7 linked regions of the Homo sapiens genome follow. The protein of the gene in region 1 interacts with the protein of each later gene in a pairwise test. Each region holds a gene or a part of one and is shown in the gene's direction. Other genes may lie near its edges. The genes, in order: NFE2L2, ETV4, NFAT5, LEF1, EIF3J, REL and TNNT1.

Region 1 (4,161 bases):
AAGACATTCCAACTTTATACTACATGAAAGTAAAAAGATCAAGGATCAGTTTTCTCTTTGGAGCAAGGCTCAGTTTCGCTTTCTGTTGAGAGTTAGTAGTGTGTATAATTAATTTTTTTTAACAGTTTATTGATGAAATTTATTTTTAGAAGGAAATCTCCCACCACCTTCCTGTCATTCTCAGGGCAAGATAGAGGGTAGGAGAGGGAAGGGAGACTCGGGGGAATGGGAGGTGCAAGCCTTAATTAGACATTTGAGTGTCTAAAAGATTACTTTTCATTTCAAATACTTTGTCTCAGTTTACTGAATAGCTTTAATTTAGGACAGGGATTGTATTATCTTTGCTTTATCTTTTCCAATATTTTGGATCATCTAAGCATGATAGATGCTGGTTTATTCAAGGCACTAAAATTGACTTGCAAAAGACATATTTAATATGGATTCTGTGTTCAAGTCCTTTCTTCTTTGTTTATCCTGGTACAAAGATGTTTGTTTTAAAGTGGTATGAGTTAATTGTCCAACTTCAGATTTCCCTAAAATGTGTAACAGATTACCCAGTTGGCAAATGATGATATATATTTTTTAAACATGAATATTTCTGTTAGGCCAGATGGTGATTTAACATGAATTGTCCAACATTTGTGTTTCTTATCAAATTGTCTTCTTTTGTCTAAGCCAAGCTAGCAACATAATTTGGAACACACTCAGGAATCACTAAAGGACAAGAGCAAAAAAAATTCAGACACCAAGTGGCAGACGGCATTTGCTCCATATGCCATGCAAAGGCTCCTGGCCAGTGCTCGCATGGCCCTTGGGAAGCTTTCTCACCCGTTGTAAGAAAGTATCTGTGCAGTGCTGTGCAACCCATCTACCTGCTTTCCTCTCTCTACCCAAACCCTACTTATCTAACACTTTGTACTGTGGCCTTCCTCCATGGGGGACTTGCACTTCCTCAAAGCCCTGGATTTCTGTGCAGAAGAGCAGTTTTAGTTCTTCCTTAGGCACTTCCCTTTCCTCCTGTCCAGTGTCATGTTCTTGTTTGTTATGGGCTCCACCCAGACGATTATTTCCTCTTAGATGATGTGTGAGCCTTGCAGAGAGCTGGGTCATTTGTGGAATAAATCATGTGCCCAGTCACACGGCTCCTTACAGGAAATGGTTGGTGCATATTAGCTTAGCACAAAATACAGTAGTGAGCTTGTGGTCCCCAACAGTGAGTCTTCAGTTAACTTCTGCTGTTTTTTTTTTTTTTTTTTTAACATAAAGCTTTGAATGTTTCATACAGTATCAAATCTCTGCAGGATTTTGCCTGCTGAAACAGATGTGAAAATCTGAGTAGCACAGAGTATGACATTAAGGCCATAACAATAAACCTATTGTTGCTGCATTCTAAATTTGATCAAGATGTCTGTTTTTGGGAATCCAAAATAGTTGCTTCAAATTTAGCTTTTTTCTTTTATGAAGCAGTTTTGTTTTGTTTTGTTTTGAGACCTCTCATAGCAAGAAAAAACATTACATAAACTTTTTTTTGAGACAAGGTCTCACTTTGTTACCCAGGCTGGAGTGCAGTGGCACGATCTTGGCTCACTGCAGCCTCGACCTCCTGGGCTCAAGCAGTCCTCCCACCTTAGTCCCCCACGTAGCTGGGACTACAGGCACATGCCACCACGCCCGGCTAATTTTTGTATTTTTAGTAGAGACAGGGTTTCACCATGTTGCCCAGGCTGGTCTCGAACTCCTGAGCACAAGCGATCTGCCCGCCTCGGCCTCCCAAAGTGCTAAGATTATAGGCGTGAGCCACCATGCCTGGCCACATAAATATAAACTTAAAAATACACAGGAAAACCTTTCAGAACACTTTGAAACCTATTTTGGTCCTATTACGATTGCACTGAATGTCCCCCAGCCTAATGAAGAGCAATTAGATGTCATTTGGTGGCATTCTTGGTGGAGACAGTAAGCTAGGGCCGCAGGAGCTGCTTAGTCTCCCAGGGTCCAGCATTGTTTCAGGTAACGTGAACAGGATGCTCAAGAGCTAGTCTAAATAATGCTTCATGTCTTATTTTTCCTGTTTGTTGATAAGGATTCATAAAGATGTCTTTTTCTGGTCATGTCAAGGGAAATTCAAATAAAAAACATTGAATTGGTTTGGAGCTGTCCATTGAAGGGTACTCACAGCAGGAATTGAGTGGCAATTGAATGTGTGTGTGTGTATGTTTGTAAACATTTATATTAGAGTGTATGCAAATGTATATGGGCGTGCCCACTGCCATCACCATTACCCCCACCAACAGTAACAAAACCACCATCAAGAGCAATATCCACTAAAACTTCTAATTTGCTTATTAATTTGCTTTATTATTTGTAAATAATTCAGAATCTCTGAGATCAAAATCCTTTTTTATTACAACATGTTAATAGTAGTCTAATTCAGACCTGCCCTGAGGAAGAACCAAGCAATGAAGCTGTCCATGATTTTAGAAGTTAATTGGCTCATTCTTTCTGACCATCTAGGTAGTCCCAACATTATTTTAGGCTCCCCCTAGTTAGGTCCACAACCTCATTATTATCCATTGGCCTGGACTTTGGTCTCGCTTATACAGCAAGTAGTAGAGCCTATCACTGTCAACATGTAAACATTTGCATATTTTACATTTATAGAGAGATACTTTTCACGTGCCTCATTTGATCCACTAACATCTGTATGCTTGGGTAGGATGGAATAATTAAACAATGTATAGCTAAAGCCATCCAAACCCCTCAAATATTATCATCTGATGGGAAGGAAAAGGGGGGGAAAGGAAATTAAATAGTTATTTCAATTCTTGGCATGATTGACACTGACAATTATAAATTCCATTCAATATTTTCTTCCAGCTCATGAGGGTTGGTTGTAAGGATACTTTGCAAGTCAGATTTATGAGCAGAAGATGTTTGCAACCTAAATTGCTTCAGTTGCATGAAAAAGTCACAACCTTTTACTGATTTTTATCCTGGGATCTCCTTAACAAGAAAAAACCTCAGGCCCAGGAAGTCTAGGGTGAGGCAGGGATGTGTCAAAGTACACTTTTCCCCACGTACAGGGACAAGTATTTGAGTTTCTTTGATTGACTTTGCAAAGAGCTTTGCACACTTTGCACATCACTTCTTGAGATGGGTGGGAACATGGACTGCCTATTTTACAGAGTTCAATTAAGATCGCAGGATCATGCATTCCTTTCATTTTTGGTGCTAGTACCTAGAAGATGGGAACATATTGAACACTTAATACCTTGCTTGGGCAGATAGCTCCAGTTTGCAGAAAGTCTAGACAGGATACCCTGCTATGTATCTAGATTTACTGAGAAGAAGCGGCCCAAGCTAATCAGAATTTTAAAGTAGGTTTCTCAGCTGGGCGTGGTGGCTCACACCTGTAATCCCAGCACTTTGGGAGGCCGAGGCAGGCAGATCACTTGAGGTCAGGGGTTCGAGACCAGCCTGGCCAACATGGCGAAATCCTGTCTCTACTAAAAATAGAAAAATTAGCCGGGCATGGTGGCACGCACCTGTAATCCCAGCTATTCAGGAGGCTGAGGTGAGAGAACTGCTTGAACCCTGGAGGCGGAAGTTGCAGTGAGCTGAGATTGTGCCACTGCACTCCAGCCTGGGCGACAGAGCGAGACTCCGTCTCAAAAAAAAATAAAATAAAGTAGGTTTCTCTATACCTTTGAATTTTCTGTCTCCCATGATAACCTTTGGGTAAACATGTCCATCAGAATGGAAACAAATCATTTTTTAAAATAGAAATTATTCTCATACCTATTTTAGTGGGAATCCCCCTGAGAAGATAGCCATGTATAGTCGACTGAATGCTCTGTGGTTGCTATTTTGTTGCTCTTGGCCAGGAAACTGATCTAGGTGACCTACAGACTTAATCTGACCTGCAGACTGGCCGCTTCATACTACCAAGATTCCAAAGCCAAGTGTATATACAGTCGGCCCATGCAGCCTCTGGTTCCATGATGCAACCAATGGCAGATTGGTTCAAAAATATTTGGAAAAAGGCCAAGCACAGTGGAGTGGTTCATGCCTGTAATCCTAGCACTTTGGGAAGCTGAGGCAGGAAAATCAATGGAGCCCGGGAATTCAAGACCAGCCTGGGCAAAATGGCAAGACGCCATC
Region 2 (4,161 bases), on another chromosome or scaffold:
AATGTGGACACCCCTGATCTAAAGGCTGTTGGTCCTTTCTTGGCTGTTGCTAATCTGCAGGGCTGTAATAATGGAGCCTCCCAGGGGACAACCAGGGCTCCGCCCCAAACTCACCTCTGACTTCTCTCTGCAGCTCAGGTACCAGACAGTGATGAGCAGTTTGTTCCTGATTTCCATTCAGAAAACCGTGAGTAGAGGTCCCTGGGGAGAGGGTATAGGGAGTGGAGGATGGCAGGAAGTGAGTCATAGGATAGAGAATCACAAGAGAGCAGCTTGTTCTCTCCTAAAACACAGTGGGGTTTGATCTTAAAGACCAAGGCAATAACTGGAATGAAAACCTTGGTTGAAATCTGGGGCTTGACATGTTCTTGCTGTGTGACCTTAGAGCAGACACTATCCCTCTGGTTCTCCATTGCCTTATATCTGAAGTGAGGGGCCTGGGCCAGTTCAGCAGAGTCCAGTTCTAGTGTTGTTTGTTTGTTTGTTTGTTTGTTTTCCCCCCAAGACAGAGTCTTGCTCTGTCACCCAGGCTGGAGTGCAGTGGCACAATCTCGGCTCACTGCAACTTCCGCCTCCCGGGTTTAAGCCATTCTCCTGCCTCAGCTTCCAGAGTAGCTGGGATTACAGGCATGCACAACCACACCCAGCTAATTTTTGTATTTTTAGTAGAGATGGGGTTTCACCATGTTGGCCAGGATGGTCTCGAATTCCTGACCTTGTGATCCGCCCACCTCGGCCTCCCATAGTGTTGGGACTACAGGCGTGAGCCCAGTGCGCCCGCCCCCAGTTCTAGTATTCTAAGTCACTTCCATAAACTGGGGACAATTTTGCCTCCCAAGAGACATTTGGTAATATCTGTAGACATTTTTGGTTGTCACAGTTGAGGGTGGGGTGCTACTGGTGTCTAGTGGATAGAGAGGCCAGGGATACTGCTAAAAGCATCCTATGATGCTCAGGACCGCTCCTTACAATATTATTAATAAAACACTATCTGGCCCACAGGTCAGTAGTGCCACTGTTGAGAAACCCTGCTTTAGGCTGGGTGTGGTGGCTCACGCCTGTAATCCCAGCACTTTGGGAGGCTGAGGCGCGTGGATCACATGAGGTCAGGAGTTTGAGACCAACCTGGCCAACATGATGAAATTCCGTCTTTACTAAAATACAAAAATTAGCCGGGCATGGTGGCGTGTACCTGTAATCCCAGCTACTCAGGAGGCTGAGGCATGAGAATCGCTTGAACCTGGGAGGCGGAGGTTGCAGTGAGGCAAGATTGAGCCACTGCACTCCAGCCTGGGTGACAGAGCGAGGCTCCATCTCAAAAAAAACAAAAACCAAAAAACAAACCCTGCTTTAATGTCAGATACTTTGCTGTCAACTGTCTTCACCAGTGAAACAATGGGGCACAAAGAATCAAAAACAGCAGAGAATAGTTGGTTACAAACGGCATTTGACTGGACTGCGGTTAAAACTGAATCTCACACCGGCTTGGAACCAACTCTTTGCTGCTCAGCCTCGTGGCCAGAGTTTGGGAACCCCGCAGGGGCCACAGGAAAGGCCAGTGTTCTTCACAGATAAGTAGGAGCATGTGTATAATGTTAGTCAGCTGACATTCAAGTGGGCCAATATCCAACCTCAACCAGAAAAAGAAAGATTCTTTTATTTATTTATTTAGAGACAGAGTTTCACTCTTGTTGCCCAGGCTGGAGTGCAATGGTGTGATCTCGGCTCACTGCAACCGCTGCCTCCCAGGTTCAAGCAATTCTCCTGCCTCAGCCTCCCGAGTAGCTGGGATTAAAGGGATGTGCCACCACGCCCGGCTAATTTTTTTGTATTTTAGTAGAGATGGGGTTTCTCTATGTTGGTCAGGCTGGTCTTGAACTTCTGACTTCAGGTGATCCGCCCGCCTCGGCCTCCCAAAGTGCTGGGATTACAGGCGTGAGCCACCGCGCCCGGCCAAGAAAGATTCTTTATATCCTCAAATAAGAAAACATGTCACTCCCCTGGAATTTTCCAGGGCACTCAGGAAAACTACAGGCCCTAGGTTGGAGGTGCTCACTCCTTGAAAGTGTTTTCTGGGGCCTGGGGTTGCATTAAATGTTTTTGTTTTTTGTTTCTTTTTGAGACGGAGTCTCGCTCTGTCACCCAGGCTGGAGTGCAGTGGCATGATCTCGGCTCACTGCAATCCCCGCCTCCTGGGTTCAAGCAATTCCCTTGCCCCAGCCTCCTGAGTAGCTGGGACTACAGGCATCCGCCACCATCCCCGGCTAATTTTTTTTTGTATTTTTAGTAGAGACAGGGTTTCACCATGTTGGCCAGGCTGGTCTTGGACTCCTGCCTCCCAAAGTGCTGGGATTACAGGTGTGAGCTACCGTGCCCAGCCTAAATGTTGAACTTTAGATGGTTTATTTAGTCAATAATCAGACACTAGTCTGATGTATAAACTAGACATAATGTAAATAGCCAAAATGTTCTTGTCTCACTGCGGGTCTCAGAAAATTGATACCCAGAGAGGGAAGGAGGCTGTACCAGTCACCCAGCTGGTCCTCAAAGCTCAGAAGGTATCAGAAGCCCTGCCTGCCTCTTGTGTGACAGGCTCTGGCCTTGCTCTGTCCCCTCCACCCCCACAGTAGCTTTCCACAGCCCCACCACCAGGATCAAGAAGGAGCCCCAGAGTCCCCGCACAGACCCGGCCCTGTCCTGCAGCAGGAAGCCGCCACTCCCCTACCACCATGGCGAGCAGTGCCTTTACTCCAGGTGAGCCCCAGCCTGGACCTGGTGAAGGGTAGGAGAAGGGTTCCAGAGGAGGGAGGCAGGGGGCACCCATGAGCAGAGGCAGCAGCTGAGATGCAAGTTAGACAACAGAAAGGATTTTCTAGCACTTGTAAGGAAGCAATACAGCTAAGGATTTCCTCTGAATAGACGGAAAACGCAGCAGAGGGCCTCAGGAATATATACTGAGGCCAGAGCAGATTCTGTTTCCACCAAGAGGCCCACTGTCCCACCTAAACCATTGCTCTGAGCAACAAATCCCCCCTGTATGAATCCCAGGGGTTCAAGACTAGCCTGGGCAACAGAGGGAGACTGTCTCTGAAAAAGAAAAGAATTGGCTAGGGCTGAGTCTGTGGCTCCTGCCGTTCCCTTCTCAGCCCCCTCTATCCTTCCTTCTCCTGTAATCCCTGTGACCTCGCTTTCCTAGGAATGAAGGGTTCAAAGATGCTTTCCAGCTTCTCTGCCCCCTCACCCCTGTCTCCTTCTCAACTCCAGTGCCTATGACCCCCCCAGACAAATCGCCATCAAGTCCCCTGCCCCTGGTGCCCTTGGACAGTCGCCCCTACAGCCCTTTCCCCGGGCAGAGCAACGGAATTTCCTGAGATCCTCTGGCACCTCCCAGCCCCACCCTGGCCATGGGTACCTCGGGGAACATAGGTAAGGAGACAGGGAAACCCACTGCTCATGGGCCCAGGTGTTTTTTCAATTCCTGAGTGTTCTCCATAAAGACTTGAGCTGTGGGGTGGTAGAGGCAGGGGGCAGTGGAATAGAAAGGGAGAAATACTGACACCCCAACCCCCTACCCCCCATTCCGGAGCCCACTCTAAAAGCCTAGGAGTAACAGGCTCGAGGAAGGATTAATTTAAAGTTCTCTTCTCTTCCTTCTCCATCCAACCACATCCAGCTCCGTCTTCCAGCAGCCCCTGGACATTTGCCACTCCTTCACATCTCAGGGAGGGGGCCGGGAACCCCTCCCAGCCCCCTACCAACACCAGCTGTCGGAGCCCTGCCCACCCTATCCCCAGCAGAGCTTTAAGCAAGAATACCATGATCCCCTGTATGAACAGGCGGGCCAGCCAGCCGTGGACCAGGGTGGGGTCAATGGGCACAGGTACCCAGGGGCGGGGGTGGTGATCAAACAGGAACAGACGGACTTCGCCTACGACTCAGGTAAGAGACTGGGGTGGGGCAGGGTGGCATGTGATCAAGTGTTCAGTTAAGCCCAGAATGTCTCCCGAGTTTTTTTACATTGCTGTTTACCATTTCATACATCCAACCCACCCACCCACTTTTTTTCTTCATAATTTCAAAAGAATGTTATTTTTCTTTCTTTTTCTTTTTTTTTTTGAAATGGGGTCCTGCTCTGGCCCAGGCTAGAGTGCAGTGGCACGA
Region 3 (4,161 bases), on another chromosome or scaffold:
AGTAGATTCAAAATGTCTACTATTCAACTGAGTTTGCATTTAACCTTCCTATCAAAACAGTGCTAGTCTTTCTTGCAACCTCTTTTTAAATTTAATACGATGATTGCCTGACAATGGGAAAAGGGTCCTGGCTAATTAATTAATGTTATAATACATGGCCATTAAATGATGTTTCTGGTAACCCCATAATTAACATGTGACACTCTTAATAAAATAAGTAAATAAAAATTATGCTGTTACAATTATATTCAAAGTAACTTGTGTTACAAAAATCCTGAACAAAAGTATACATCACTGATTTTCTATTTTTCAATTCTATTTTTGTATTTTCCATCTTTAAAGAACATGGTTTATATATTTTTTTTAAATAAAATTGTTTGCCATTAGTAAGTTCAAATTCGAAGGCTAGGATTCCTTTTTGAAGTGCCTGGGAAAAAAATTCAGCTGCAGAGAAAAGGCACCATTTGTTGTACATTCTATAATGAAAACTATTCATTTTGGCAAATGAAAAACTAAGATAGAAATGAAACTGAATGAATCATTCTAGAAATAGAGAAATATAAGATTATAGAAAAATCATAGATAAAACAGGAAAAATAAGAGTATAAACAAATTGGAAAAATAGATAAATATAAACAATAGATTTAACAATTTTAATGATTTTAAAAGCATGAGTTAAGAGATTATATATCAAATGAAAGAACTGGTTAAATAAGAGCTAAATGCTGATCTGATATAATCTTTGTTATTTATTTATTTATTTATTTATTTTTGATACAGAGTCTCACTCTGTTGCCAGGCTGGAGTGCAGTGGCATGATCTCAGCTCACTGCAACCTCTGCCTCCTGGGTTTAAGTGATTGTCCTGCCTCAGCCTCCTGAGTAGCTGGGACTACAGGCGCGTGCCACCACACCCAGCTAATTTTTGTATTTTTAGTAGAGACAGGGTTTCACCATGTTGGCCAGGGTGGCCTCGATCCCTTGACCTCATGATCCACCCTCCATGGCTTCCCAAAAGTGCTAGGATTACGGGCATGTGCCACCGCATCCGGCCACAATCTTTGTTTAAATTAAACATTTAAGACCGGAAGATTTTTAAAAGAAAATGTGAAATATGACAATGAGTTAAGAGAAAATAAACTATGATTTTTTTTTTACTACTGCTAATCTATTTGATATGGTACCATCCAGAATTATACTTCATAGTGCAAAAATGGAAAATCCTAAACATAGTAGCAATGTTTTATTGACTTTATAGAATATTTCTGATTTATATTTCTTCCTAGGGCCCTTGTTATATCATAGATCATAAATGCCTATAATATTTTATGTACAAAGATACCTTTTTGGAAAGGATTTTTTGAAAACATTTAACATGAAAAATAATCTATTGAATTCTTTTCTTGTTTAGTATCTAATAATCTCTGTGGATCCATGTCTAGTAAACTAAAAGTATTATGGAAATAATGAAGTTCAAACATGTCAAAAGTCATACCTAGTTCATCCCAGCTTCTTGTCTTTAGATCCATCTCTTTCTGATTGCTTACCACCTGTTTTTGTGTCCCTTCCTAAACTCTGCTTTCATTATTTTCACTCAATACTGGAATTCTATTGCTTATTTAAAATAAAAGGATATAAATTCATATTCTAATCCAGTGGTTCTTGGCCTGATTTTAATTTACTCTTGACTCTGATTATTCCAGGAGTCCCCTAAAATTTCAAAGTGGTAGTACAGAAAAACATTTCCCAGTGTGATTAGTATTATATATAAAAAACAGCCACTTTTTTTTTTTTTTTTTTTTTGAGATAGAGTTTCGCTCTTGTTGCCCAGGCTGGAGTGCAATGGTGCAATCTCAGCTCACCGCAACTTCACCTCCAGGTTCAAGCGATTTCCCTGCCTCAGCCTCCCAAGTAGCTGGGATTACAAGGGCGCACCACCACACCTGGCTAATACTGTATTTTTATTAGAGATAGGGTTTCTCCATGTTGGTCAGGTTGGTCTCGAACTCGTGACCTCAGGTGATCCACCCACCTCGGCCCCCCAAAGTGCTGGGATTACAGGCGTGAGCCACTGCGCCCGGCCAAAACAGACACTTTTTATATGAAAAAGTTGACTCCTCAGAGTATATTTTATATTAAGAGTAACAGGTAACTAGAAAAAAATAAAGATTATTCAGTGGCATAGGATATAGACCTTTTAACTTTAGAGAGGTAAAAGACATTTTTCAATAGAAATGTTGCTTATTAATTTGTATTATTGTCTTTTCTTGCTGTTGCTAAGATTTTATTTCAAGTTACGCAAAGAAGGTTGCTGTGTCTTCTGTTTGCTTTTGTGTTAATAAAAGTCAAGTTTAAATAAACTAACAGAGTATAAGACCAATGATAATTATGTACTTGAGTGAAAAGGTAGAGATTTCCTCTATGAGTTAACTACAGATAATGGATCTAGCTTTCAGAATAAATAAACTTGATGTAATAAAGGATATATATATTTAATCATTTGAACTAAACATTTGTTACATGAGAGTTCAGTTACTTTTATTTGTTCTTAATAGCTTTTGAAAAATATATACTTTTCTCTTTTTTTTTTTTGGTTTTTGAAACGGAGTCGTGCTCTGTCACCCAGGCTGGAGTGCAGTGGCACAATCTTGGCTTATTGCAACCTCTGTCACCCAGGTTCAAGCAATTCTCCCACCAGAGCCTCCCAAGTAGCTGGGATTACAGGCACGCACCACCATGTCCAGCTAATTTTTTGTATTTTTTTAGTAGAGATGGGGTTTCACCATGTTGGCCAGGATGGTCTCGAACTCCTGACCTCGGGTGATCTGCCTCCCTCAGCCTCCCAAACTGCTGGGATTACAGGCATGAGCCACCGTGCCCAGCCCATTCTCTTTTATTTTTAACATTTATGTGGTAAATAGGTAATGATCATTATTGCTTCCCACCCATGAATGTTTATCACTTCTTTTTCATTCAGGAAACACTGTGATTAGTCTTTTACTGAATTTGGTATTTAGTTTTGAAGATGAGAGAAGAACAGAAAAGTTTCTAATAGTGAGCTAAGTTGTTGATTATGCTTATTTATTTATTTATTTATTTAGAGACGGAGTCTCTCTGTTGCTTAGGCTAGAGTGCAGTGGTGCGATCTGGGCTCAGTGCAACCTCCGTCTCTTGGGTTCAAGCAATTCTCCTGCCTCAGCCTCATGAGTAGCTGGGACTACAGGTGCACACCACCATGCCCAGCTAATTTTTGTGTTTTTAGTAGAGACAGGGTTTCACCTTATTGGTCAGGCTGGTCTTGAATTCCTGACCTCAGGTGATCCGCCCGCCTCAGCCTCCCAAAGTGCTGGGATTACAGGTGTGAGCCATTGGGCCTGGCTGATTATGCTTATCTTTATAAAATTAGTTTTACAGGAGGCTGAGGTGGGAGGATCATCTGAGCCCAGGACGTCAAGGCTGCATTGAGCCTGCATGATCATGGGATCATGCCACTGCACTCCAGCCTGGGCAACAGAGCAAGACCCTGTCTTAAAAAATAATAATAATAAAATAAATAAATAAAGCAAGAGAAGAAAAAAATTTAGTTTTAATAAAAAAAACTGTACCTGAGGCAATCTTTGTAGGACATGCTAGTCAAAAGAATAAATTCAGTGTTAGTAATAATTGAAAACCTTTTTTGAGCAATTTATATGTCAAGCAGTTTATGTTTAACACCATTTTACATATATTTTTCACATTTAACTCTTAGAAAAATCCTGCGATGTAGTACCAGTATCCCTATTTCGTAAATGAACAAACTGAGGTACAGAGGGATCTACTAATTTTCCCAAGGGCACATATCTCGTGGATGAGGCTGGAATTTGAACTTCACCAGTTTTACCCCAGAGCTGTGAGATTATATTGACTGTCTTAACAGTCAGTAAGAACATTTGAGGCCGGGCTCGGTGGCTCACGCCTGTAATCCCAGCACTTTGGGAGGCCGAGGTGGGCGGATCACGAGGTCAGGAGATCAAGATCATCCTGGCCAACATGGTGAAACCCCGTCTCTACTAAAAAAATACAAAAAAATTAGCTGGGCGTGGTGGGCGGGCACCTGTAGTCCCCTGAGGCAGGAGAATGGCTTGAACCCGGAAGGTGGAGCTTTCAGGGAGCGGAGATGGCG
Region 4 (4,161 bases), on another chromosome or scaffold:
AAAAAGAAAGTGTGTGGTTTTGAGGGCGGGGACATTTTGGGTTTTAAACAGCGCGTTTAAGAACACCTCAGATCTGCCTTCTCTATCCCAATGGCAGAGGTGAGTACGAATTTTGAAAGGCTGGGGGCCTGCGTTCAGAGAACAGAATGGTGTTCTTTACCCGTTGAATCCAGTTTGAGCGGGCTGGGGGCGGGGGTAGGGTGCACCTAACCCCGCGTAAAAGATTTGTGACTACTGTGTGCTGGGAAAAGGAGGTCAAAGGGAGGACACACGTCCAGAGAACCGAATAACATCCAAAACACAGGCTTTTTGCCAAACTCTCCTATTTGTAGAGCAGCCTCTCTTTCTACCCATTTTGCTAGTCCTGCCTTAGTCCATAAATAATTTTGCCACCCACTTCATATTCTCCACAATTTTCTGGTCCGGGTGAAGGACACTGCGTTCGAATCCGAGAGCACTCGGGTGTTAAGTGGGCATGAGGAGGCCTGAGGGTGAAGGAGTAATACCACTGATTTGCACGTGTTTGAGGCTGTCTGGGTGGATGGTGATTACCAAAACTGATATCAACTGGGCTACCTTTTAGATGTCTATAACCTGACTCTCTAATTTTCCTCCCTTTAACCACAGAATCGTTCTACTTTTGTAAGCCTGCACTCAGCCAGCCATAGTAGGTTATAAGCTCGAGTGGAGCTTCTGCTGTAACTGCGCTCAGGGCAGTTGCCTTAAGACCGCATCTGAGTGGTTGGCTTGTTTATGTTTAAATGCCATTTTCAGTTGCAAAATGATATTTCAGCCTTCTTTTAATCAGATCTGATTGAAGTGAACAGTGGTTGAAGAGGCTATCGAAACCATCAACCCCATTAACTCCTACTCCTGTAATATTAGGCATCCAAGGAGCCTTGATATGGTTTAATAAACAGCAGTCAGAACAGCATGTGGATCATTCCCAAATTTAACTATATTTTTATTGGTTTTGTTATTATTTATACGTTTTTGGTCCCGGGTGGATAATAATCACTCAAAAATACATGTTGACAAGAAAAGGATTATGCAGTACTAAACACTAGCGTATGTCTCTCAGAGTATAAAACAGAGTTGCCCCTAAACCTCTTCCTTTGAATTACCAGCGCACACACATTTGTACCATTATTGTCACAAACTCTAAGGTGATTTTCTTTCTTTTGGGTGTGGGGATTCATGATGTTAGGTGGCCAGACAAGCACAAACCTCTCAGGAGCCCTACCACGACAAGGCCAGAGAACACCCCGATGACGGTAAGACACCCATTCTACTTCTTCTGACTTTAGCAGATAAGGGGTGCAATTTGTATAAATAGGTGTGTTTTGTTACTTTTGAGTTCAAGAAACTGGGACTAGGTCAGACTATGCCCACTATTTTAATGGTAAAGAAAACGCAGGAAACTTATGGCTTACCTCTAATATATATTACATAATTTAAAAACTGTTTTTGAATGAGTTAGGGACCCTTGGATTTCAGGTGGGTTCCAGATTCTTTGGGAAGAGGGAATGTCTACAATGAGTTTTTCTCTTCCTCATCTTACCTTAAATCCTAATTAGCTTAGATCTTTAGTATTTTTAATATATTATTAAGAAGAACGACAGTATATATCGATTTATTTTCCAACCAGAATAGTTTTGAGTGGATTTTCACTTGCAAAATTGCTGTTTCTTGTTCCTTATTACAGTGAAAAGGCCGGCAGTAAATGAGCAGAGCAGAATCTAACTTGTAAAAATATAAAACTTATAATTAGGAATGTGCATATCAGAAATGATACCCTTTCTCCCTATTTCTGATTCTTGCTAAAAACTTTAAAATTACATACATATGTATTTAGACTTAAGGAGAATTCTTTGTGACTTTAAAAGAATCAAGTAACCTTAGGGATTTCTTGTCAGCCTATCTGTTTTCCATTAATTACTTAACAATTGGCCTAACTGAAATGAAGTGTTTTTACATACAATATGTCAACCAGGAGCAGGGAAGAGAATTATATATTAGGCTTCTTCCTCAGCTACAAGATAGTTACACAGATTAACAAGAAGAAATACACATATCGAACAGAAATTTTTTGGCAAAATGATCTAAGTGTAGCACATAAAATTAAGCCTCCCAGAGTTAATCCTTTATAAATTTAGATAGTTGCCTATATACTAGATAACAACTCTTTCAGTAGAATCTAGAAATTTTTCTAGAAATCTGCAAGCACAGGTAGAATCTTTGAGTTTGTCTACAAGGCAAAACATAATTTCAAGTGTATAAATCTCTGTGTTTGTGTGTAGCTAGATGGCCTAATATATTTATATTACATTTTTAAAGTTGTGTGTGTTCTGTATATTTTAGTCCAGTTTGTTAGTATTAGAACAAATTAAGTTAGATGGATAACACTTATTTTTGTAAAAACATCAGTCAGTAGTGGAAGAACTGTTTGAACTACATGTTTTTAAAACATCTGGTTTGCTGCTAAGCTATTTAAGAGAATAAATACTGTCAATCTAAAATAGAGCATAATAATCCAGTTACAGTATTTTGTAAACAAATCTTTTATGTAGGGTCTGATTTATCTTAGAACTATTAGATTTTCAGATGAAAAATACAGTAATATAAAAGGGAAGTCAGTGCATCATTGATTGTTCTTTGGATCTTCCCAGGAAAGCATCCAGATGGAGGCCTCTACAACAAGGGACCCTCCTACTCGAGTTATTCCGGGTACATAATGATGCCAAATATGAATAACGACCCATACATGTCAAATGGATCTCTTTCTCCACCCATCCCGAGAACAGTAAGTAACATGCTGATGTTGCAAATTATGTTCAGAAGTGCAAATTGATTTGTATTTTGGCAGAATGTTTATTTTTCCAAACTCATTGGTAATGCTTTCATTATATATAACTAGTCGTTGCTAAATAAGAGCTGTTATGAGGAATGGCCACCTTAAAACAGTGCTACCTTTGATGTCTTGCCTTTGAAATTTTAGCTTTTGGCTTATTGATTAAAATAAATATGTAACAGATCATAAGTTATAAAATCAAGTGAAGTTACATCAACAAATCCCTGATTTTATGAGTATTGTGCATTCTATGCTGATGAGAGGAAAAAATTGATTTACTTTTTCAGCTAAGTAAGGACTGTATAGCTTTTAATGCCCACAAGCTTTCTAGAATCAGAGCTACTTTAGCTCATTTGGAGCTGAATGTTTGTTATGTTACTTTGGCTTTTCAAATGGTGTCTTGTTTTATTGTATCGGCCAATGTTTCCTTAGGATCGGTTTGGCGGGGATGAGTTATTTTTGCTTTATTGTCAATTGTTGAGAAAGCATCACTCAAAGATAACCCTAATGAAAGTTGTTCCTTTTTTTTTTAATCTTGTGGTTTAGTTAACTTTTAAAATTCTAAAAATGCAGTGGTATTATAACTGCATTATGCAAATGCATAACATTATAAAGAATTTCAGGTTTATTTGATGATATTTCTCTTAGGAAGTGGAAACCTCATTTAAGTGAGAAAATACCTAAATGGTAACTTGTGTAGTATGTAGATGTAAAATGTGCTGGTGATGGAGTTCTCTCTTAGAATTAGCCCACCAGCGTTGGTGACGGACTTTTTACTGACCCATCAATATATTTACCTTCTCTCCAGCCCCACTCTCCCTTTATCACCTAACCCCCAATGAAAAACACATGTCTATGGGTCTCGGGGATTAGGGTTCCAGTCTCACTGACAGCCCTGGAGGTCAAATCTCAGATTGTAAAATGGAACCTATAGTGTTTGACTTACTTGCCCAGTGTTTCTACCAACTGAAAAAAATCAGTCACAAACATCTGGGAAGAGTAACGTTGTTAATACCTTAGTGAACAAAATCTGGGAGTGAGAAGATTCACTAGCAGAGAATAGTGGCTCAAAATCAACAGTTATCAACAAGAGTATTTGTGGTTATCATTACACATAATCTTCAGTTGTTGAAATGATACTTATATCAAATATGATCACTTTGAGCACTGCAATTTAGATGTTATTGTAATTATTTTCCAATAAATTGCTAAAGGATATTTGATCTCTCAGCTAAGGAATAAGCTTTTTCTAATTTTTATATAGTAGTTAAAGTGGAGATCTTGGGGTTCTAATCTTGAGGGAGATCTTG
Region 5 (4,161 bases), on another chromosome or scaffold:
TCATGTAAGTAATTCTAATTTCTAGCCCCTCTGGGTAGATTTTTAGTAGGATGTTCTCTTCAGGAGGTTGAAGGTTATTTTTTATTTTCAAGGATACTATAATACAGACTCATGATTTGCTGTTTTTAGCAATTACCTTGTGAATGTTGTTCTGCAGATACAGTGAATTTGAGTGCTGGATCTTTTTGTTTGTTTGTAGGGGTAAGAGGACTTCTTGTTTTACAATGGCTTCCCTAAGAGATACCTGGGCTTGTCAGCAAAGCAGCTAATAAAACACTGGCCTATTCTTTTTATCTGATTATCACTTGAGAGGGGCTGGGAAGTATCTTTTGAGGGAAAAGGTCTCTGGCACTGTAGGATTTGGGTTGGGTGAGACTTCAGCCACTGTCTTTTACAAATCAGAATTAGACAGGGTGCAAGTTGAGTGACAGGGCTGGCACCTATTCTCTGGGTCCGTGGTTGTGGTGCCACACCTTGATAGGAGTCATACATTTCAGGGCAGGGTGAATGGGAGTGACAGCCATGGGTGGTGAAGCAGGAATGTATGGAAGGGACTGGTTTTGCTAGTATTTGCAGTTTTTTTGTTGTTGTTGTTTTTGTGATGGAGTCTTGCATTGCAGAGGCACGATCTCAGCTCACTGCAACTTCTGCCTCCTGGGTTAAAGCAATTCTCCTGGTCTGGCGCAGTGGCTCATGCCTGTAATCCCAGCACTTTGGGAGGCCAAAACAGGCGGATCACGAGGTCAGGAGATTGTAGACCATCCTGGCTAACAAGGTGAAGCTGAGGCAGGAGAATGGCATGAACCTGGGAGGCAAAGCTTGCAGTGAGCTGAGATCGTGCCACCGCACTCCAGCCTGGGTGACCAAGTGAGACTCCGTCTCAAAAAAAAAAAAGCAATTCTCCTGCTCAGACTCCTGAGTAGCTGGGATTACAGGCGCCTGCCACCACGCCCGGCTAATTTTTTGTATTTTTAGTAGAGACGGGGTTTCACCATGTTGGCCAGGCTGCTCTGGAACTCCTGATCTCAGGTGATCTCCCTGCCTTGGCCTCCCAAAGTACTGGGATTATAGGTGTGAGCCACCACGCCCAGCCTATTTGCAGTTTTTAAGATGGAGAAAAAGGAATCCTACACAATGAATTGGGTTTTCTTTGATAAATTATCACTAAGCTGAGGGTTCTACATTTGATTGGTAATGTGCCCAGAGTTGATATTTTATTCTGCATGTACTAATTTTTTTCTGGTTTTTGGAGGTGTTCTCTAACCAAAACTGAACACTTTCTGGTAGCTAAAAACTGGTGTCTCTTTCCAGCTTCATATTTTTATAAGGCTGATAATGCTGTCCACTGAACAGGACTATTTCTTGGTAGGACATAGAGATGGTCACTGTTCTCATTGTAGTTCCCGTGCAAGAAAATGGAGACATCATGGGATAGGGTGTTGTCATTGTAGGTTTAAGAATTGTCATTCTGGCCGGGCGTGGTGGCTCATGCCTGTAATCCCAGCACTTTGGGAGGCTGAGGCTGGTAGATCACCTGAGGTCAGGAGTTTGAGACTAACCTTGCCAACATGGTAAAACCTCATCTCTATTAAAAAAAAAAAAAAAAAACACAAAAATCAGCTGGGCATGGTGGCACGCACCTGTAATCCCAGCTACTCGGGAGGCTGAGGCAGGACAATCACTTGAATCTGGGAGGTGGAGGCTGTGGTGAGCCGAGATCACGCCACTGTACCCCAGCCTGGTGACAAAGCGAGACTCTGTCTCAAAAAAAAAAATAAAATAGGCCGGGTGCGGTGGCTCACACCTGTAACCCCAGCACTTTGGGAGGCCGAGGCAGGCGGATCACGTCAGGAGATCAAGAGCATCCTGGCTAACACAGTGAAACCCCGTCTCTACTAAAAATACAAAAAATTAGCTGGGCATGGTGGCGGGCGCCTGTAGTCCCAGCTACTCGGGAGGCTGAGGCAGGAAAATGGTGTGAACCCGGGAGGCGCAGGTTGCAGTGAGCCGAGATCGCGTCACTGCACTCCAACCTGGGTGACAGAGTGAGACTCCATCTCAAAAAAAAAAAAAAATAATAGTAATTGTCATTTCATGTTTATTTGTCTGTTCTCCCTGATTACTGGGGGTGTGTTAATGGAAGGGCATGTTATCCTCCCCCATTTGTTTAGACTGAGGAAGGATAGTAGGGAGCATTGTGAGCTATAAAGACAGTTTCTCTTTGGTTGAGCAATGGTGTGTTGGTGATTACAGGTCGTCATTATAAATAAAATGAATTTTGTTTTCAAGAGACAGGGTCTAGCTGTGTTGCCCAAGCTGGTCTCGAATTCCTGGGCTTAAGTGATCCACCCACCTAGGCCTCCCAAAATGCTGGGATTACAGGCATGTGCCACTGTGCCCGGCCACCTTACGTTTAAAGAGGAGAAATTCATGGTCCTTTCAAAGTTACTGAAGTTTAACAATGAACAAATTGGATTTCTCATAACACTTTTGGAATGTACATTTTGGGATATATAGATATATATGGAATGTACATATTTAGCTTTAACTTTTCAAAATGCTTAAAAATTCAAGTTTAATGGTATGCCCTTTTTTTTTTAAGTGGAAATTGATGACTTGAAAAAAATTACCAATTCACTGACTGTGCTTTGCAGTGAAAAACAGAAGCAAGAAAAGGTAAGAGCAAGCTGTGTAGGGAAATGGGTATTAAATTAGAGTGGGGTTATAGGTCTAACAGTCAACAAATATAATAGGAGCCTGTCCTAATTAAAAGTCAAGCAACTCACTAATACCATTTAAGTTAGACTAGAAGAGGAGTATGGGTGCTATTACTGTCCTTTTGTTTCCAGACATGTTCCCCTTTTCTGAGTTAATAGAAATTGCTGAAATCACAGACTGGGTTCAAATACTAGCACTGCTACTTAATAGGTATAGGTAAATCAGCTTTTCTAAGCTTCAGTCTTCTCCCTTCTAAAATAGGAACAATAATACTCACTTTGCAGAGTATTTATAAGAGTAAAGTAAGAGAAGTATGTCAAGTAAAGGTTAGAGCTTTGTGATTTTAAATTGGGGGGTACTTATCCACACTTTTCTAAATTTGCTTCAGTGAAGTTAAGGCTGTCTACCAATAACTTATAACCCCTGCTGGTGGGCTAGGTATCCAGAGCAGGACCAAGGACCCAGATCAAGTTTTGGAGAGACTGACTCTGGGAGACCTGTTCAGGTCCAAAACATGTAGGCTCGGATGTCCCTTACAGAACTAGTGTTTCTGGGACCAAAGGTTTTTGTGTGTTTGTTTATGAGGGTTGCTGTACCAGATAAGATGCCCATAGCACACTAAGGTTCATGAATTAACTCTCTTTCATCTTTAGCAAAGCAAAGCCAAAAAGAAGAAGAAAGGTGTGGTTCCTGGAGGGGGATTAAAAGCCACCATGAAAGATGATCTGGCAGATTATGGTGGTTATGATGGAGGATATGTACAAGACTATGAAGACTTCATGTGACATTTTATCTTTTCTTGGTGTCATCTTTATGTTGCCCACAATCCCTTGAACATGTAGCACAACTTCCTTTCCTTTCAGTTCTGCCAAATGCTACAATCAGAAGTGCAGTATCTTTTGTGCTGGTTATTTAACCCCTTGACACTTAGGTGCTAATGTGCAAATGAGGGAACTTGGATCTTGCTGCCAAGGGGTTAAAATTGGGAACCTAAGTTGCTACTAAATCATAGTTCAAAACCTAATAATGTTGTCGTTGTTGCTATCTGATTTCATAGCAGCAGTCACTAAATTGGAAACAAAAGGTTGCAACGTGACAAAAAAAATTGTGTAGTATTTACCAGCACCATTCAGTAATACAGCCTTAACCATACCTCCTTGAACTACTTCATAACTTGTCAAGAAAAGCAGTTTGCAGCAAGGGCATGTGGTGTGCACCTAGTATTAAAATTGCTTTGTCTTAAAATTGAACATGAGGATATTAAAAATACATTGTGAAGAAGACTGCTTATCTCAGAGTGAAGATACTGCGGCTGAAAAGCACTAGTTTGATATAAAATTAAAATGACCAAAACCCTCCAACTTTGAAGCTAAAGAAGGTAAACCTTTCCATTATTGCATTACATGTTGTGGAATCTCTCGAGTGCAAAGACTGTCTAGTTAT
Region 6 (3,430 bases), about 120 Mb from region 1:
TGTAAGCAGAATTAAGGTTCTGCTACCTCTGTGTGTAGAATATTCCCAATGGATTTTTCATTTTTCAGGTGCTATTTTTTGACCCTGTATAGACTTTAATTTAAAATGAATTTGGTAACGTTTCTCCTCTGTCTCTACATATATTCATGCTTTCACCTGCTCTTTTAACACCTGCTTTTAGTATCTGAGGCACTTTTTCTGAACTCTACTTGTGCACTGGATCCCTCCTCCTTTCTCTGCCAGGCTGTGTTTACTTTATCCTTACATCACCACTTAGTGATTCCTTTCTTTGTATAAACATGGTAAATGTCTTCATTAGCCTAAAAGGAAAGACCAAATAAAACCTTTCCTACCACTTGGATGCATTTGCATCCTGACTTCTGAAATGCCTCCAGCCTCCATTTTCTCCCTTCCCAGTTATTCCTTAGCCCAGCCATCTCTGTCTTTAGCTCCTACAATTTTCTTAGGATATTCTGGGAAAGATGAGCGGAGACTGCCCGCCTTGTCAAATCTAGTGTCTTTTTTTCAGTCCTCACACTGCTTGACCTATGTATAACCTCCTATACTTCCCTCTTTGCATACTCCTCTGGGTTTTCTGTGGTAGTCAAGATTCCTCCCTGAGATTTATTTCCCATGAGTCTTGACCCCTCCCCTCAGTTGGTGCTATTTCCCCCTACCCGCCCTCCGATGATCTTATCAGAGCCCACAGGTTCAGTTTTCTTTCATGCTACCTGAATGTCCTGATAAACTGGCTCGCTCTCTTCTTTACCTTCCATAATGGCATTACCATTTACCACGCCACCCAAGATACTTACTAGGAACCTCAAAGTATTGTATTCTTTTTCTCCATCACACTCATACTTAATCATCAAGTCCTTTTGAGCTTGTCTCCTCTTGAATATGTCCCTTCTTAATTCCTGCTGCCTTCTTAGTAAAGGCCTTCATTCTTTTTTCCCTAGTAATAATCTTTTCCATATGTTCCAGTTAAAATACCATGTTCTCCCTATTCCTTATTACATAGCTAGCATTCCTTGAAAAAAAACAATTCTCTCAGGCCTCCATACCTTTAGCATGTTACCCACTCTGCCTCTGCTCTTCTGGAACTAGAACACTCATCCTTGAAGGCTGGGCTTCTGTATGAAGGTTGGTCCTGCCTCCTTACTTGAGGTGAAGCTTTGTACATGCCTGTATTACGGACATCCTCTTATTTAAGTGTTTGTCTCTTTCGTCATTGGGACTCCAGCACCCAGCATAGTCCCTAGTATACTAGTTGGTGCTGAATAAATAGTAGCTATTATTAGAAAAGGAAGGGTGAAATTGACATGGGAGTTAGTAAAATGTATATGGAAATGATTTTTAAAGGGAAAGGTAATGATTTTCTGGCAGGAAAAGCAGCAATGACAAGATTACTTAAGTCTTGTGAAATAACACTTCTCTTCCTTGACCTGCTGCTTCCCTTTTTTACCACACACACACGCACACATACCACAGCCCTTTGAGACTGAAAGCAGCTCTATTGAGAATAGTAGTGTCAACTGTATTATGTAGAAATTCTAAAGTTTTTGGGATTATTTCATAGCCCTGACCTTGCTACTTCTCTCCACTTTATGTGGCAGGTTTAATCTCAGGTCTCCCTCATACACTTCTCAGCCTCAGCACCTAACCCTCACACAACACTCCAGTATTGATGCAGTCAATCTTGTATAACATTTTTTGAATGTCCAATGTGCAAAGCACGATGTTGGAAATTATACAGAGGTGAATAAGACAAAAACTCTTGCTCTCAAAGATGTCAGTCTTTTTCTTTGCAAGGATAACACATGTAGAGTAAAATGCATAAAGGGGACTAATTTTAAATGTACAGCTTAATTAATTTTTATGTATGTTAACACCCATGTCACCACCATGTTTAGGACATTTCCAGCACCCCTGAAATTTCCTTCATGCCCCTTCCCAGTCTGTACCTACACCTCTAAATCTATTTTCAATCTTAATGGCCTTTTAAATAACTGGGCTTCTCACAACCATAGTGAACAGAAACAGCTGGGTTGTCAACGTCTAACCTAATACTTCAGGAAAACTCATGATGGTTTCCATGTTAAGAGAGACATGGAGCAGGGCACTGGCATGGTGGATGGATCACGCCTGTAATCCCAGCACTTTGGGAGGCCGAGGTAGGGGGATTGCTTGAGCCCAGGAGTTCAAGACTAGCCTGGGTAATATAAGGAAAACCTGTCTCTGCAAAAAAAAAAAAAAAAAGAGGATACAACCAAATGGAAGAACATTCCATGCTCATGGGTAGGAAGAATCAATATCGTGAAAATGGCCATACTGCCCAAGGTAATTTACAGATTCAGTGCCATCCCCATCAAGCTACCAATGCCTTTCTTCACAGAATTGGAAAAAACTACTTTAAAGTTCATATGGAACCAAAAAAGAGCCCATATCGCCAAGTCAATCCTAAGCCAAAAGAACAAAGCTGGAGGCATCACACTACCTGACTTCAAACTATACTACAAGGCTACAGTAACCAAAACAGCATGGTACTGGTACCAAAACAGAGATATAGATCACTGGAACAGAACAGAGCCCTCAGAAATAACGCCGCATATCTACAACTATCTGATCTTTGACAAACCTGAGAAAAACAAGCAATGGGGAAAGGATTCCCTATTTAATAAATGGTGCTGGGAAAACTGGCTAGCCATATGTAGAAAGCTGAAACTGGATCCCTTCCTTACACCTTATACAAAAATCAATTCAAGATGGATTAAAGACTTAAACGTTAGACCTAAAACCATAAAAACCCTAGAAGAAAACCTAGGCATTACCATTCAGGACATAGGCATGGGCAAGGACTTCATGTCTAAAACACCAAAAGCAATGGCAACAAAAGCCAAAATTGACAAATGGGATCTAATTAAACTAAAGAGCTGCTGCACAGCAAAAGAAACTACCATCAGAGTGAACAGGCAACCTACAAAATGGGAGAAAATTTTCGCAACCTACTTATCTGACAAAGGGCTAATATCCAGAATCTACAATGAACTCAAACAAATTTACAAGAAAAAAACAACCCCATCAAAAAGTGGGCGAAGGACATGAACAGACACTTCTCAAAAGAAGACATTTATGCAGCCAAAAAACACATGAAAAAATGCTCATCATGACTGGCCATCAGAGAAATGCAAATCAAAACCACAATGAGATACCATCTCACACCAGTTAGAATGGCAATCATTAAAAAGTCAGGAGACAACAGGTGCTGGAGAGGATGTGGAGAAATAGGAACACTTTTACACTGTTGGTGGGACTGTAAACTAGTTCAACCATTGTGGAAGTCAGTGTGGCGATTCCTCAGGGATGTAGAACTGGAAATACCGTTTGACCCAGCCATCCCATTACTGGGTATATACCCAAAGGACTATAA
Region 7 (4,161 bases), on another chromosome or scaffold:
GGAAGGGCAAGATCATCACAAGGGTCCTTATAAGAGGAAGGCCAGAGGGTCAGACTGAGAGATTTGAAGATGCTGCATGGCTGCCTCTGAAGATGAAAGAAGGTCCATGGGCCCAGACATGCAGGCAGCAGCTGGAAAAGGGAAGGGAATGAATTCTCCCCTAGAACCTCCAGAATAAATTGGTTCTGTTCACAACTTGATTCCAGCCCAGGGGGACCAATTTCAGATGTCTGATCTGCAGAGCTGTAAGATAACAAATCTGCATTGTTTTTCTGCCACTAAATTTGCAAATTACAGCAGTGATAGGAAACTAAGTTTAGGCGCGATGGCTGACGCCTGTAATCCCAGCACTTTGGGAGACCGAGACAAGTGGATCACCTGAGGCCAGGAGTTTGAGACCAGCCTGGCCAACATGGTGAAACCCTGTTTGTACTAAAAATACAAAAATTAGCTGGTAATGGTGGCACATGTCTGTAATCCCAGTTACTTGGGAGGCCGAGGCAGGAGAATCACTTGAACCCAGGAGGTGGGGGTTGCAGTGAACAGAGCAGAGATTGCACCACTGCACTCCAGCCTGAGTGACAGAGCGAGACTCCATCTCAAAAACAGAAAGGAAACTAATTCAGGTACGGAGTGCTGGGTGTACAAAAAGCCTCATGTCCACCATAAGGAGACGGGGCTCAGCCTGGACAAACCACTGTTTCTGGAACATTCAATGAAGAGTTTCTCGAATGTCGTAATGCCTTCGCTCAATATTCCAGAACCCCTTCCTCAGGCTCAAGGCCATCAGCCTCTTTAATCTCCCCAGTCCCTGGTCTTATCACCAGTTACTTCCCTTGACCCCCTCAAAACAGACATTCTCATATCCTGAGACTAAGGGCGACTGTGGCCCAGACAGGCTGAGCATCTGGAGTGAGGTCGTACAGCAGAGTTCACTATCGGCTATTTCAGGGTGGAGACATGCAGAAAAAGCAGGCATTTCTTCTTCTCCTTCATTTCGATTTTTTCTGGGAGGATATTAAGACCCAGAGAAGGGGGCCAGGTGCGGTGGCTCACGCCTGTAATCCCAGCACTCCGGGAGGCCGAGGCAGGCGGATCACTTGAGGTCAGTAGTTTGAGACCAGCCTGGCCAACATGGTGAAACCGCGTCTCCACTAAAAATACAAAAATTAGTTGGGCGCGGTGGCGGGTGCCTGTAATCCCAGCTACTCAGGAGGCTGAGGCTGGAGAATTGCTTAAACCCGGGAGGCGGAGGTTGCAGTGAGCCAAGATCGCACCACTGCACTCCAGCCTGAGCAACAGAGCGAGAGTCCGTCTCAAAAAAAAAAAAAAACAGAGGGGAAGGGACTTGTAGGTGGTCACACGGGGAGACGTGGCAGGGCCGGGAGTGGGTACCCCTGCGTTTCTGCTGGTTCTGATGTCCCAGCAGCCTCTGCGGCACTGGGTCTGCTGATCCCTGTGCCCCAGTTCCACATCCCAGGGCCCTCCTCCCTCAGTCCTACAGGGGAGTCCATGAGGTTAACCCCTTACTTCCCACAGGAGGAGAAGATGAGGAAGGAAGAGGAAGAGGCCAAGAAGCGGGCAGAGGATGATGCCAAGAAAAAGAAGGTGCTGTCCAACATGGGGGCCCATTTTGGCGGCTACCTGGTCAAGGTGAGTCAGCCTGCAGGAGCCTGAGGTCTGAGTTCTGAGGGGGCAGGGGCTGGGGGCCAGACCTCTGGTTCCTAACGGAGGAGGGGCTGAGGCCTGGATTCCTGGGTCTGAGGGAGGAGGGGCTGGGCCCTGAACTCCTGGGTCTGAGGGAGGAGGAGCTGGGGTCTGGACGCCTGGGTCTGAGGGAGGAGGGGCTGGGGTCCTGGACTCCTGGGCTGAGGGAGGAGGGGCTGAGGGCCTGGACGCCTGGGTCTGAGGGAGGAGGGGCTGGGGGCCAGACTTCTGGTTCCTAATGCGAGAGGGTCTGGGGCTTGGACTCAGTCTGAGAGGAGGGGCTGGGGGCCTGGACTCCTGGGTCTGAGGGAGGAGGGGCTGGGGGCCTGCACTCCTGGGTCTGAGGGAGGAGGGGCTCGGGGCCTGCAATCCTGGGTCTGAGGGAGGAGGGGCTGGGGTCTGGACTCCTGGGCTGAGGGAGGAGGGGCTGGGGGCCAGACTTCTGGTTCCTAATGCGAGAGGGTCTGGGGCTTGGACTCAGTCTAAGAGAAGGGACTGGGGGTCTGGACTCCTCCTGAATCTGAGGGAGGAGGGAGTGGGGCTGGACTCCTAGGTCTGAAGGAGATGGGCCTGGGGTGCAGACCTGTGGTCCCAACATGGAAATGGTCTGTGGGATCCGACGTGTGGGTCCCGACACGGCAGTGCTCTGTGGGATGTGGCCCCCAGTTTACTGTTCCGCCTCCCCCACCCTCAGGCAGAACAGAAGCGTGGTAAGCGGCAGACGGGGCGGGAGATGAAGGTGCGCATCCTCTCCGAGCGTAAGAAGCCTCTGGACATTGACTACATGGGGGAGGAACAGCTCCGGTAGGTGCTGTGGGGGGCTCGGGGTGTAGGGGCCTGGGTGTGAGACAGGGGGATAAAGGAGCTCACACCCAGATCTGGGTGGGCAGATACTCCGGGTCTCAGCTCCAGTGCTATGTGACTTTGGGCAAGTGGCTTCCCCTCTCTGGGCCTCTGCTGCCTTCTTTGTGAAACATGTCACTGAACCCACTTTTCGTGGCTGCCGTGGCCTGTAGCATCTGACAGGTGTTACCAAGGAAGCCAGACAAGATGACTTCCCTCCCCCAAGTTTAGGAGATTTTGTTAACTCCGTGATGTGCCTTGGAGCTCAGGATGGGCTGTGCCTTTTACCTAAATTCAAGCCAGGAATGCGGGTGAGAATTTTCCAGCTGAGTCCCTCGCATCTATAGCCAAGACAGCCTGCCTCTCATGATAAGCTACAGGACGGCAGGCTGGTGGGGGCTTGCCTTCAGGAGCCCGCCTGTTTCTCCATGTTCTCTGGCCTGGGCTGTGGCTCAGAAACTTCAACCACCCCAGAGTGGCGCCGTGATCGGGTTTGCCGCTTGCACCGAAAGCCCCTGCCCAGGGCTCAGTGCCAGCTTTGCCGGCTACTTTGTGATCTTGCGCACGTTATCTGACTTCTCTGGGGCTCCCATTCCTCATTGGCAGAACAAGGATATAATCACAAAATTGACCTCACAGAGCTGTGAAAGGGCAGTGAGATAGTAATAATAATTACAGGCTGGGCCCGGTGGCTCATGCCTGTAATTCCAGCACTTTGGGAGGCTAAGATGGGAGGATTGCTTGAGGCCAGGAGTTGGAGACCAGCCTGGGCAATGTAGTGAGACCCCATCCTTAAAAAAATAATAATTACAGCAGCAGCTTCCTGTGGAGGGTTTACAACCCTGTGAGGTAGATACTATTATTATCCTTGTGTTAATAGTGAGGAACCTGAGGCACAGAGAGGTTAAGTAACCCTTCCAGGGTTGCACAGCTAGCAAGTGGAAGAGCTGGGATTTGAACCCGGCAGTCTGGTGCAATAGTCCGTACTCTTTGCTAGTGTGCTGTAAAGTGGCTTCATGGTAAATGTTTAACAGCTGCTCTCCAGGGGGCAAAATGTCTAGATTTAGCACATGCCCATTCCCAGGGCGTAAATACTTCCACCTTGCTCCTTTCAAACTACCCGTGTGGGGACACTGAGTGTGGAGACGGGAAAGGATGTGCACAGCAGGCTCCTGGAAGCCCTCTGGGGGGCGCTGTGGGCCCTCCTTCCTGTGCACATGGTTCATGTAAAGTATTGTTGGCCGGGCGGGCGCGGCGGCTCACACCTGTAATCCCAGCACTTTGGGAGGCTGAGGCGGGCAGATCACCTGAGGTCAGGAGACCAGCCTGACCAATATGATGAAATCCCATCTCTACTAAAAATACAAAAATTAGCCGGGCGTGGTGGCAGGCGCCTGTAATCCCAGCTACTCTGGAGGCTGAGGCAGGAGAATCACTGAACCCAGGAGGCGGAGGTTGCGGTGAGCCGAGATGGCACCACTGCACTCCAGCCTGGGCGACATGAGCGAAACTCTGTCTTAAAAAAAAAAAAAAAAAAAGGCTGAGGTGAGAGGATCACTAGAGCCTGAGAGGTTGAGACTGCGGTGAGCTGTGATGGTGTCACTGCACTCC

What was found.
Region 2: the proteins of NFE2L2 (region 1) and ETV4 interact in binary tests that used the Homo sapiens proteins (3 or more experiments, as listed by UniProt).
Region 3: the proteins of NFE2L2 (region 1) and NFAT5 interact in binary tests that used the Homo sapiens proteins (3 or more experiments, as listed by UniProt).
Region 4: the proteins of NFE2L2 (region 1) and LEF1 interact in binary tests that used the Homo sapiens proteins (3 or more experiments, as listed by UniProt).
Region 5: the proteins of NFE2L2 (region 1) and EIF3J interact in binary tests that used the Homo sapiens proteins (3 or more experiments, as listed by UniProt).
Region 6: the proteins of NFE2L2 (region 1) and REL interact in binary tests that used the Homo sapiens proteins (3 or more experiments, as listed by UniProt).
Region 7: the proteins of NFE2L2 (region 1) and TNNT1 interact in binary tests that used the Homo sapiens proteins (3 or more experiments, as listed by UniProt).

What each region holds. Positions count from the first base shown.
Region 1 is NC_000002.12:177,237,046-177,241,206, reverse strand, and holds part of NFE2L2 (nuclear factor erythroid 2-related factor 2), read left to right. Parts: intron 1-4,161.
Region 2 is NC_000017.11:43,532,452-43,536,612, reverse strand, and holds part of ETV4 (ETS translocation variant 4), read left to right. Parts: exon of another isoform or gene 1-133; coding exon 134-187; coding exon of another isoform or gene 188-201; intron 202-2,627; coding exon 2,628-2,754; intron 2,755-3,264; coding exon 3,265-3,426; intron 3,427-3,673; coding exon 3,674-3,939; intron 3,940-4,161.
Region 3 is NC_000016.10:69,572,089-69,576,249, forward strand, and holds part of NFAT5 (nuclear factor of activated T-cells 5), read left to right. Parts: intron 1-4,161. UniProt on the Homo sapiens protein: Transcription factor involved, among others, in the transcriptional regulation of osmoprotective and inflammatory genes. Binds the DNA consensus sequence 5'-[ACT][AG]TGGAAA[CAT]A[TA][ATC][CA][ATG][GT][GAC][CG][CT]-3'.
Region 4 is NC_000004.12:108,162,210-108,166,370, reverse strand, and holds part of LEF1 (lymphoid enhancer-binding factor 1), read left to right. Parts: intron 1-69; exon of another isoform or gene 70-90; coding exon of another isoform or gene 91-99; intron 100-1,207; coding exon 1,208-1,274; intron 1,275-2,669; coding exon 2,670-2,803; intron 2,804-4,161. UniProt on the Homo sapiens protein: Transcription factor that binds DNA in a sequence-specific manner. Participates in the Wnt signaling pathway. Activates transcription of target genes in the presence of CTNNB1 and EP300.
Region 5 is NC_000015.10:44,557,647-44,561,807, forward strand, and holds part of EIF3J (eukaryotic translation initiation factor 3 subunit J), read left to right. Parts: coding exon 1-4; intron 5-2,602; coding exon 2,603-2,676; intron 2,677-3,371; coding exon 3,372-3,503; 3' UTR 3,504-4,161. UniProt on the Homo sapiens protein: Component of the eukaryotic translation initiation factor 3 (eIF-3) complex, which is required for several steps in the initiation of protein synthesis.
Region 6 is NC_000002.12:60,925,913-60,929,342, forward strand, and holds part of REL (proto-oncogene c-Rel), read left to right. Parts: 3' UTR 1-3,430. UniProt on the Homo sapiens protein: Proto-oncogene that may play a role in differentiation and lymphopoiesis.
Region 7 is NC_000019.10:55,135,453-55,139,613, reverse strand, and holds part of TNNT1 (troponin T, slow skeletal muscle), read left to right. Parts: intron 1-1,539; coding exon 1,540-1,653; intron 1,654-2,401; coding exon 2,402-2,511; intron 2,512-4,161. UniProt on the Homo sapiens protein: Troponin T is the tropomyosin-binding subunit of troponin, the thin filament regulatory complex which confers calcium-sensitivity to striated muscle actomyosin ATPase activity.